Regions from separate parts of the Homo sapiens genome. Here region 2 is linked to region 1. Evidence: fine-mapped expression QTL. Tissue or cell type: cerebellar hemisphere. Region 1 holds a variant in brackets; the other region holds the start of a gene. All regions are shown on one strand. Distances are from middle to middle.

Evidence for each region. PIP is the estimated chance that this variant, and not a neighbour inherited with it, causes the effect.
Region 2: AFF3 starts here. The variant in region 1 is fine-mapped to the expression of AFF3 in cerebellar hemisphere (GTEx, PIP 0.97).

The regions. Positions count from the first base shown.
Region 1 is chr2:100,584,882-100,590,264 of GRCh38, reverse strand. No RefSeq gene overlaps it. Among named protein-coding and RNA genes, the nearest start is that of LINC01849, 16 kb to the left of the region's middle. The variant T/C (reference allele first, on the strand shown) is at 3,226.
Region 2 is chr2:100,140,070-100,145,452 of GRCh38, reverse strand. It overlaps AFF3 (ALF transcription elongation factor 3), which reads left to right and starts at 2,863. Exons shown (of 25, transcript NM_001386135.1): 1 at 2,863-2,969.

The sequences.
Region 1 (5,383 bases):
GTCAAAAGAGCAGTGGTTCCATTTCTAGATTGTGGATCTTCAGATAAATTCTACCATTTTCATTTCACTTTCTGAAAGTCAGGGTCGGCTTGTGAAAAGTTGTTAAACAACATGCTAAATGTGAAATGTCAACCCTCACTCCAAACTTTCCCTATTCAGAGCATGAGATGAAGACTTCATTGGGTTTTATAGTGGCTTTCTGATTTCTGGTAGTCCATTGAAGAAGAGAGTTTGAAAGTTGTTGTATACTGTTAACGATTGTCTGCCCATGTCCTGCCTGAAATACCATGATTGTTTATGGAAAGTATCTTTAATAAAGCTGCATACAGTTTGGCTTGGGAAAAAAAAAAAATAGAACCAAACTCTGTGCAAGTTCAGACTCATGCTGCACCACCAGCATCCACACTGGGTCATCTGTGAAGTCCTTCTCCAAGGCACACAGACAGTTGCTCAGCCTTTGCGTAAGGACAGCCCGGAAGTGGAGGGCAGTTCACTCCCCTGGGGCACCCTCAAGTGGTGGAGGCCAGGGTTGGGTGATAAAGCAAGATCCTCTCTGTGGGTGGACAACTCTGGGAGGTCATCTACATGCTTCTTAGAGGTTTCAAAGGGATTGAGTTTCCGCTGCCACCAGCCCTGACCTCACATTCCCACCCTTCTGTCAGCTTTTCCCTTTCCCTGCCTCTGTCTCTCAAAGCTCTCATGCCTTCATCTTTGTTTTTTCTGTTTTGTTTTGTTTTGAGAGACGGAGTCTTGCTCTGTTACTCAGGCTGGAGTGCAGTGGCACAAACTTGGCTCACTGCAACCTGCACCTTCCGGGTTCAAGGGATTCTCCTGCCTCAGCTTCCCAAGTAGCTGAAACTACGGATGTGCACCACCACACCCAGATAATTTTTGTACTTTTTAGTAGAGACGGAATTTCACTCTATGTTGGCCAGGCTCGTCTAGAATTTCTGACCTCAGGTCATCCGCCTGCCTTAGCCTCTCAAAATGCTGGGGTTACAGGCGTGAGCCACCACACCCAACCACATGCCTGCATCTTTGGATCTCCTCTCGAACAAACTGTACCCAAGTCCCCGCTCAGGCTCTGCATCTGGGCAGACCCAAACTAACACCTATGTGTCCCTTTAGTTCTGGCACTTTACTATAGACACATGACAATCAAGAACTGAGTACCACCTTTCTTACAGGATTACAATTTCCTTTTTTTTTTTTTTTTTTTGAGACAGAGTCTCTCTTTGTCAGCCAGGCTGGAGTGCAGAGGTGTGATCTCACTTCATTGCAACCTCCGCCGCCTGGATTCAAGCAATTATCCTAACTCAATCTCCCAAGTAGCTGGGATTACAGGTGTATTCCGCCGTACCTGGCTATTTTTTGTATTTTTAGTAGAGACAGGGTTTCACCATGTTGGCCAGGCTGGTCTTGAACTCCTGACCTCAAGTGATCCGCCTACCTCAGCCTCCCAAAGTGCTGGGATTACAGGGGTGAGCCACCGTGCCTGGCACAATTTCCATTTTGATGTGATTCATGAACTGCCATATTTTAAAATAAATTTAATTTTTTTAGTATAGTTTTAGATTTGCAGAAAAATTCAGAAGCTAGTACAGTGAGTGCTCATATATCCTGCACCAGTTTTCTCTCCTCTTAACATCTTACATGAGCATCGTACACCTGTTACAATTAATGAATCAGTATTGATACATAATTAGTAACTAAAGTCTATCTGCTTTCAGAGTTCTGTTGTTTCTGACTGATGCACTTTTTCTGTTCTAGGACCTTATCCAGGACACCATATTCCATTTACTAGTCAGGTCTTCTTAGGCACCTCTTGGCTATAAAAGTTTCTCAGATTTTCCTTGTTTTTGATGACGTTGATAGTTTTTCTAGTCAGCTATTCTGTAGAATGTTCTTCAATTTGGACTTGTCAGATGTTTTTGTCTTAATTGTGGTTTGGTTTTTTGGAGGAAGACCAAAGAAGTAAAGCGTCATTTTCATTACATCATACCCAGGGTCTGTACTACCAGTATGACTCATCACTGTTGATTTTGACCTTGATCACCCAGCTGAGATAGTGTTAGGTTTCTACACTATAAAGATACTCTTCCCAGCCAGGCGCGGTGGCTCACGCCTGTAATCCCAGAAATTTGGGAGGCTGAGATGGGTGGATCATTTGAGGTAAGGAGTTCCAGACCAGCCTGGCCAACATGGCAAAACCCCATCTCTACTAAAAATAAAAAAATAAAAAAATTATTGTTGGGTACCTGTAATCCCAGCTACTGGGGAGGCTGAAGCAGAAGAATCACTTGAACCCAGGAGGCAGAGGTTGCAGTGAGCCGAGATCGAGCCACTGCACTCCAGCCTGAGCAACACAGCAAGACTCCAACTCAAAAAAAAGAAAAAAAAAAGGTACTCTTCCCACCTCCCTTTTCATATTGTACACTTTGGAAGGAAGTTGCTATGGACAACCCACCCTTAAAGAGTGGAATATCTTAAGTAGAGTATCTCTACGTTATTTGGAATGCTGCCTGGGCGATGGTCTCTTCTCCTCCACTTATTTATTTATTTATTTATTTCCATTCATATATATATATATGTGTGTGTGTGTGTGTGTGTGTGTATACATATATATGGGTTTCTTTGTGTTTTTTGTTTGTTTGTTTGTTTGTTTAGCTGAAGTTTCGCTCTTGTCACCCAGGCTGGAGTGCAAAGGCGTGATCCCGGCTCACTGCAACCTCCACCTCCGGGGCTCAAGCAATTCTCCTGCCTCAGTCTCCTGAGTAGCTGGGATTACAGGTGCTTGCCACCATGCCTGGCTAATTTTTGTATTTTTAGTAGAGATGGGGTTTCACCATATTGGCCAGGCTTGTCTTGAAATCCTGACCTCAGGTGATCCTCCCGCCTTAGCCTCCCAAAGTGTTGGGATTACAGGTGTGAGCCACGCGCCTGGCAACTTATTTATTCAATCATTTTTTTATCAGTATGAACTCATAGATATGTACTTTATATTTTGGGTTATAATCCAATATTTATTATATTGCCCAAATTGTTCCGGCTTTAGCTATTGGGAGATCTGTCAGTTGGCTCCTGGACCTCTGACGTACTCTCATCATTGTGGTTTTGTGTTTGTTTGTTCAGCAGTTTTTTGTGTTCTGGAATTACAAGATGCTCCAGGCTTATCCTGTATATTTCCTGCTTCAGTTTTAGAATCAGCCATTTCTTCAAAGAGCA[T/C]TGGTTCCTTTTTTGGAGAAAAATCAAGATCTAAGTGGCAGGTATGTTCTTTGCTACTGGGGTGTCATTCCTCTTTCAGCCTCCCTCAACTGACAGAGCAAGGAAATGTGCGTGTGTATACTACCCAATGCATATACATTACCTAAATATTTCTGTTCATAAGCATCTGTATCTATATTAAACTAAACAGGAGTGGCCAGGCACGGTGGCTCATGCCCATAATCCCAGCACTTTGAGAGGCAGAGGCAGGTGGATCACTTGAAATCAGGGGTTCGAGACCAGCCTGGCCAACACGGTGAAACCCTGTCTCTACTAAAAATACAAAAATTAGCTGGGCGTGGTGGTGGGCACCTGTAATCCCAGCTACTCGGGAGGCTGGGGCAGGAGAATCGCTTGAACCAGGAGGTGGAGGTTGCAGTGAGTTGAGATCACTCCGCTGCACTCCAGCCTAGGCGACAGAGCGAGACTCTGTCTCAAAAAAAAGACAAAACCTAAACAGGAGTTCATAGTGATGACTCCAACTCTAATCTATTACCACATGGATTATTCTCACTTACACTCACCTTTGCCCCCCACTTATCTGTAACCTCTCATGATAACAGTGAGAAACCTGGCTCCCACCATCTGCCATCTATGTATTTAACTGTTCGATTCTCTTTATATGTATAGCAGTGTTACAACTGTTAATTCACACCCATGTGATAAATGACTTTATCAACTAGAGACAGGGCTTGTGTACAGCTTCTTTTGCCCTTCCCCTCATGGACTCATTTCCAGTGCTGCTTAGGTTAGCACATTTCCCCCAGCCCCCTTCTGTGAGGCTGTTTCATACATTTGTAATGCAGTTAGATTGTCTTGCCCCATTCTGCATTTCATCCAGGCATTCCCCAAACCCTCTAAAGATTTTTTGAAATTTGCATATATTAAGATTCACTCTTTGTGCCATGAAGTTCTATGAGTTTTGACGAACCCCTATTACCATCTCTCCACCATTATTGTATCATTCAGAATAGTTTGACTCCCTAAAAGTGCCATGTGCTTTACTTATTCAACCCTTCCACTCTCCCCTGAACCCCTGGTGATCACTGATCTTTTTACTGTATCTACAGTTTTGCCTTTTCCAGAATGTTATGTCTTAGTCCATTTAGTGTTGCTAGAAAGAAATACCAGAGGCTGGGTAATTTATGAAGAGGTTTATTTGGCCCACAGTTCTACAGGCTATACAAGAAGCATGGCACCAGCATCTGCTTCTGGTGAGGGCTTCGGCCTGCTTCCACTCATGGTGAAAGGTGAAAGGAACCAATGTACAAAGATCGCATGGCGAGAGAGAGGGGAGGGAGGTGCCAGGCTCTTTTTAACAACCAGCTGTCACGGAAATTAACAGAGTGAGTACTCATTCCATTGTGCATACCCCCTTCCCTTCCAGGGAGGGTGTGTTAGTCTGTTCTCATGTTGCTATAAAGAAATACCTGAGACTGGGTAATTTATAAAGAAAAGAGATTTAATTGGCTCATAGTTCAGTTCTGCAGGCTGTACAGGAAGCATGATGCTGGCATCTGCTTCTGGGGAGGCCTTAGGAAGCTTCCAGTCATGGCAGAAGGCAAAGGGGGAGTGAGGTGCCTCACGTGGTGGGAGCAGAAGCAAGAGAGAGAGTGAAGAGAGAGGTGCTATGCACTTTTAAACAATCAGATCTTACAAGAACTCCCTCACTATCAATTGTGAGGACAGTACCAAGGGGGATAGTGCTAAACCATTCATGAGAAATCCACCCTCATGATACAACCACCTCCTACCAGTCCCCAACTCCAACACTGAAGATTACAATTGAACATCATGGGATCTGGGCAGGACACAGATCCAGACCATATCAGAGGGTATTAATCTATCCATGAGGGATCCACCCCCATGACTTAAATTCCTCCTATTAGACCCCACTTCCAACACTGGGGTCAAGTTTCATCATGAGGATCAGGAGATAAATATCCACATCCCCTTTCAGACTGGCTCATTTCACTTAGCATCCGTTTTGTGTGTGTGTGTGTGGTTTGATAGCGCATTTCCTTTTGAAGCAGATACCATTGTCCTGATATACCACAGTGTGTTTATACATTCATCTATTGATGAATGTTTTGATTGTTTCCAGTTTTGAGCGATAATG
Region 2 (5,383 bases), 440 kb after region 1:
GCCACCACGTCTAACCACCTAGCTATTTTTTAAAAATTTTTAATTTTTTTGTGCAGACAAGGTCTCACTACGTTGCCTAGACTGGTCTCGAACTCCTGGCCTCGAGCAATCCTCCTGCCTCAGCCTCCCAAAGCACTGGGCTTACAGGCATGAGCCACCAATCCTGGCCAACTTTTTAATTAAAATGAAGACATTCTGCCTTAGAAGTAGTAGCTCTCCTTGGTATGAAATTTATAAATTTTACAAGCAGTTTACAGAATAGTGAGGTAAACAAACAGAATAACCATCATGATAATCTCCACCACTTACTGAATACTTATGACATCCTGCACACACACTATGTTGTTTAATTTCTACAGTCACTCTATGAGTGGGTACCGTATAGACGAGGAAGCTGAACGTAACATCCCCAAGTTACCCTTGCTAGTAAATGATAGAGGCTGAACCCAAACCCAGGTCTTTCTGGAGGCAGAGCCCACCCTCCTGACCATCAAATTGCCCATAGTATCATCTAACATGAAGGCAATGGCTTCAGCCCGCACAGGTGAGGAATTCTGCTTTGAGATGAGCAGGATGGAAGGGTTTTTAATATCCATGGGGATCTGCCAGATAGCCAATGGAAGTGAAGGCACCCTGAAAGAGGAAATAGCATGTGCAAAGCTGTGACATAAAGCAGCCTGAAAGTTCAAGAAACCATGAGTGGTGGTGGGATTGTTGGGTGGTGAGGAAGGAAGTGGTATCAAGGATGGCAAGAGATGGTATTGGGGAGTGGGCAGAGGCCACTGAATCCAACATCTCGCCTGCCCAGCGATGGAGCCTTGGGATTTTCCTGTGGGTGACAGGGAGCCATTGAAGCGTTTAAGGACTGGTCGTGGGGTGAGGGGAGTGTACTGTCATCATTTTTGTAGTCTTTTGCAGAGAAAATTTGGAGGCAGTTTGGAAAACACTCTAGAGCCTGACATGTGAGAGATGAGTTAGGAGGTCACGTGTCCCCACTTTTCTAATTTTGTATCTTCTTCAGCAAAAAAGTCTTTGCCGCCTATTCTGAGCAGATGTATGATTATTCACAAATGATATACAATACAACTGTATTCACACATTGCATGCCTTGAAACATACACAAAATGTAAACACTAAAAACATGACGTAAAAATAGATGTAAGTCTGGGAACTCGATGGAGGTGGTGGCTGCACAGCATTGTGAGTGTACTCAATGCCACAGGATTCCCCATCTTAAAACGGCTCATTTTATGGTATGTGAGTCTTAATTAAATACAAAAACCAGACAAGTGTGGGTAGATAGACATTCAATTCCTTTCTTCTCATCCTTCAGTGAACGGTCTGGTGTGCCCTGGGTGCACGTACCCCTTGGGGATTAGGGCAGTGATGAGAGGCAATGGAGGGAGGGTGTGGCTGTGGAGATGCGGACGGGAAGAAGGATCTGAGGAGTGACTGAAGAGGTAGAATGGGCAGGGCTTGGTGATGGAAGGTTGAAGAGTATTCAGCAAAGAGAAGAACGTGGGAAGCCTCCCCATTTCTGGTTTGGGTATAAGATAAAGAAACGTTTTCTCCTTGCCAGGGACATGAGGCAGACAATACTGGGATAATTTCCCAGGGCTTGGGATAGGACTGGGTGGGGAAGTTTCTAGGTATCCATTCTCAGGATAAGGACGGGCCTGTTTGGATGAGGATAATGGAGGGTCAAACCTGAAGAAGCCAGATTAGCAGAGGCAAAGTGAGAGATCAGAAGGTGGTAAACTCAGAAGGGGGTAGAGACCTGAGGAGCAAGCTGGGACAAGGCAGGAGGGAATTCACAGGCCACATGGTAAGTAATGAGTGGGGTAGAGGACAGAGCAGGGTTTCATTGTGGCGAGTCTGACGGGAGGTGCTGGGGGATGTTCCAGGAGAACAGCAGAAATGTGTGATGCTATGGATGTGGGCTTGGCAAGTTCCATCTGGAGCTGGGAAGAGGCCACCCATGGAGAACAGGAACCATGAGGCGGAGAGTGGAGCTTGCAGGAGGGCGAAAATTAAGACCAAAGAATGGAAGCCTGCCAGTGTGAGAGACCGCCTGACAAAAACCAGGAGAGTATGGAGTCATGGCGGCCCAGGCAGAAGTTCTGGGAGGAAAGAAATGGTCAACACTACAGGGAAGTCAAACACTGCCAGTGGAGACAAATAGGACAGGAACTGAAAAAGCATCCATTAGTGAATCCCTGGTGTCATTAGTGAAAATAATTCCAGGCATGAATGGGGAGAGGGAAGGGTGTCGGGCAGGAAGTCCAGTGCCCGTGGGTTGACTGAATGGGAGATGAGGAGGTAACACCCATCATGTAGGTCATGTAGAGCAGCCTTAGGACATCTGATTCCTTGCCTAAGACTCTTCTTTCCTGGTGTAGCTTTGTTCTAGAAAGGTCTGGAAGACTTGTCACAGTTCCAATGCAGGATGAGCCTTTGGTCCTGATCTCTTGGAGGCCCAGACAGCCTGGGAAACCAGCAGAGCTTTGGACAAGTTAAGCAGCCCATTGAAATCAACATTCTTGATAATCATATATCTAAGAGATTCCAAAATGTTCCTGGGATTCTTTTATGGGTCTGCATAGGGTTAGAAAGCACAGGAGTCAAAGAGACCTTCTCCCTTGGCCTCCAGGGCCACCATCCTCTGCTTTTGTCAGTTGGTCTCCCCAGAGTAGAGTCCAGGTTCCTGCTTCCAGCCTTCTGGTAGACCAGGCCCTGCCACAAGTGAGAGTTGGCCGGTTGGGTATCTGGTTTAGTCACTCGCCTCCACACTTTCACATCCTCTATCAACACCTGCACACTTGGGTTGTGACCACACATGCTCTTCCTGTTTGTACAGAAAGTGCCATTCAGAAAGCTCGCCAGCGAGAAGAGAGCTCCACGCTCAGCCTCAGAAGAAAGACGTTCAACGACTTACTGGGGAGAGAAAGAAAAGGAACGGGAGCTGAGAGGTAAGATCAAACTGGAGGGTGTGCGGGCCCTCTAGGATGCCTTGCCTGGAAGAGAGGTAGCCCCGACTTTGTGTCCTGAAGGGTGGCGCTCTAAGTAGCTGTGCCCATGCTCCGCTGGTCAGGGCAGGGGGAGCATTCTTGGTCAGCCTCACCGAGATGGTCCAGGCCCTGGTGAACAGCCAGAGGGATTGAGAAGGAAGAGATGGGATGTGACCAAAGTTGGTCACTGAAGCCGTCAGTGTGTGTGCGTGTGCATGTGTGTGTGTGTGTGTGGTAGAGGGTGCACATAAAGAAGACATAACCTGAGTGTGAACATGCTCACACACATATTTATGATGCTGGCTGGGGCCTTATGAAAAGTGTGTCTTAACCTCATGTTGCTCATTAGCTATAACCTCAAAAATAGAAACCATGACATGGCCACAGACTGGATCCCAGTCAATGGCCCCAGTGAGTGAGCTTGCAAGGAGAGATCATGGGCAGTTCCACCTAAGGCCACCGTCACTTCTGCAGAAATGACTTGGAATAATGACCTCCTCACTGTTAGGGGCTAACAGCACTATATTTGTATTTCTTGGATGGAACATTGTATATGTGTGTATTTGTGTGTGTGTGTCTGTGTATGTGCATAAACACATCATGTATTTATACACATGACATTGTGTGTATGTGTGTTTATGTGTGTATATATATGTACACACACATATGATATAATGCAATATACACAGTGACCAGATTTTTGAAACCAAAGAGAACTAATAGCAAGACAAAGGGGTTTTTTTCCTAATATGTGATTTCCTTGCTATTCGAGTCTCACATATATAAAAATGAAATATGTCTACACATGTGTTTCATAATTCCTTTTATTCAAAGAGGGGATCATTCAGGTAGCTAAAGGTCAAGTGTTTACAATAACAAAGTGGTGGTAAACTCATTCTTTGAATGTTGATCGTACAAACTAAATAATCCATCAAAAAATGTTGTCTCTGCCATTATTAAAAGCATGTGTTCCTTGGTGCAAAATTTAAGAATGTTCTAACTACAAGAGCACCTTCCTTTACCTAGGGCTATCCCATCTCACTGTTGAAGTGAAGTGATTACAGTGAAAGTAATACAGACATTTAATATTCTTAGTTTTGGTTGTGTTTCTGTCAACTGCTATTCCCTTGTTCTAGGCGTAACTGCACTTAGTGTTTAGTGGTGTTATGCATATGTATATTTGATTTGCATTTAGAAAATAGAAAAATATATACATTGCTTATTTTCCAGATTTCAAGGTTTAAATTCCCACTCTAACATGATGGTTTTAGGCAAGTCACTATACATCTCTGCATCGGAGTTCCCACATCTGTAACACAAGTACAATAGTAGATAGTAATCCCTTCCTCTTAAGAATTAAATAAGCTAATACATGTAAAGTGCTTAGACAAGTGCCTGGAACATTGAAAGGGCTCAGTAAGTATTAGCAGCTGTTATCATTGTCATCATCATCATCATCATCATCACTACCTTTTGTACAATTAAGCCATCAAACTTGAAGGGACATGGTAAGAGTTTGGGAAAGGTGAAAGGTGGGAGGTGGTGTGTGTAAAATGGGTTTGGGGGGTGACACTTAAGGCCAGAGCAGTGACATTACAGTCCTTACACTGTAGCTACAGACAAGTAGTGAGCAGGAAAGAGGAACAGCACAGAACACCCCTCCCTATGAGGCCTGCTTGTGAGAGGAACATGTTCTGGAGCTCTGTGGGCTTGATGACATGTACTCATACACATCTTGTACAGCAAACCAGGAAATAGGCACATGGAACGGTGACATCCAAATGATAGTATATAACATGCATTCAGTGCCTCTCAGGTGTGAGACGTGGTGCTCGGCATTTTACACACATTTTGTTATTGTATCTGAGCCATTGCAATTATGCTTATTTTAGAGGAGAGATTGGTAGGTAGCCTAAGAGTGCAGAGCAGGGAAATAGCAGCGTTGGGATCTGACCATCTCCAGATTCTGTGTCCCAATCCCCCACCCATCACACCCAGAATACAAAGCAAGTAGTAACAAAACGTGACCAGTGAGGACGTCCAGTTTCAGAGAGTTTAAGAAACAAGTTCAAAGTCACAGAGAAAGCTGAAGGCATGGTGAGGAGCTGGATGCTGGTTTCTAAATTCCAACCATTTTTTCTACACCACTACTCAGAGGAAGGACCTGATGTCTTGCCTATCAAGGTTGACAGCTATGGACCCTTCCATAAATAACTTTTATCTTCTGCACTTCCACATCTTTTTCTGTGAAGTGGGTGTAATGTCCTGTCCTACAGAGTTCACAGGATTTTATGAGGGCTCAATGAGTCTACATACGTAAAATGCTGTTATATTATTTCCGAGTCATGTAAGGAAAACGTGTTGAAATCCACCTT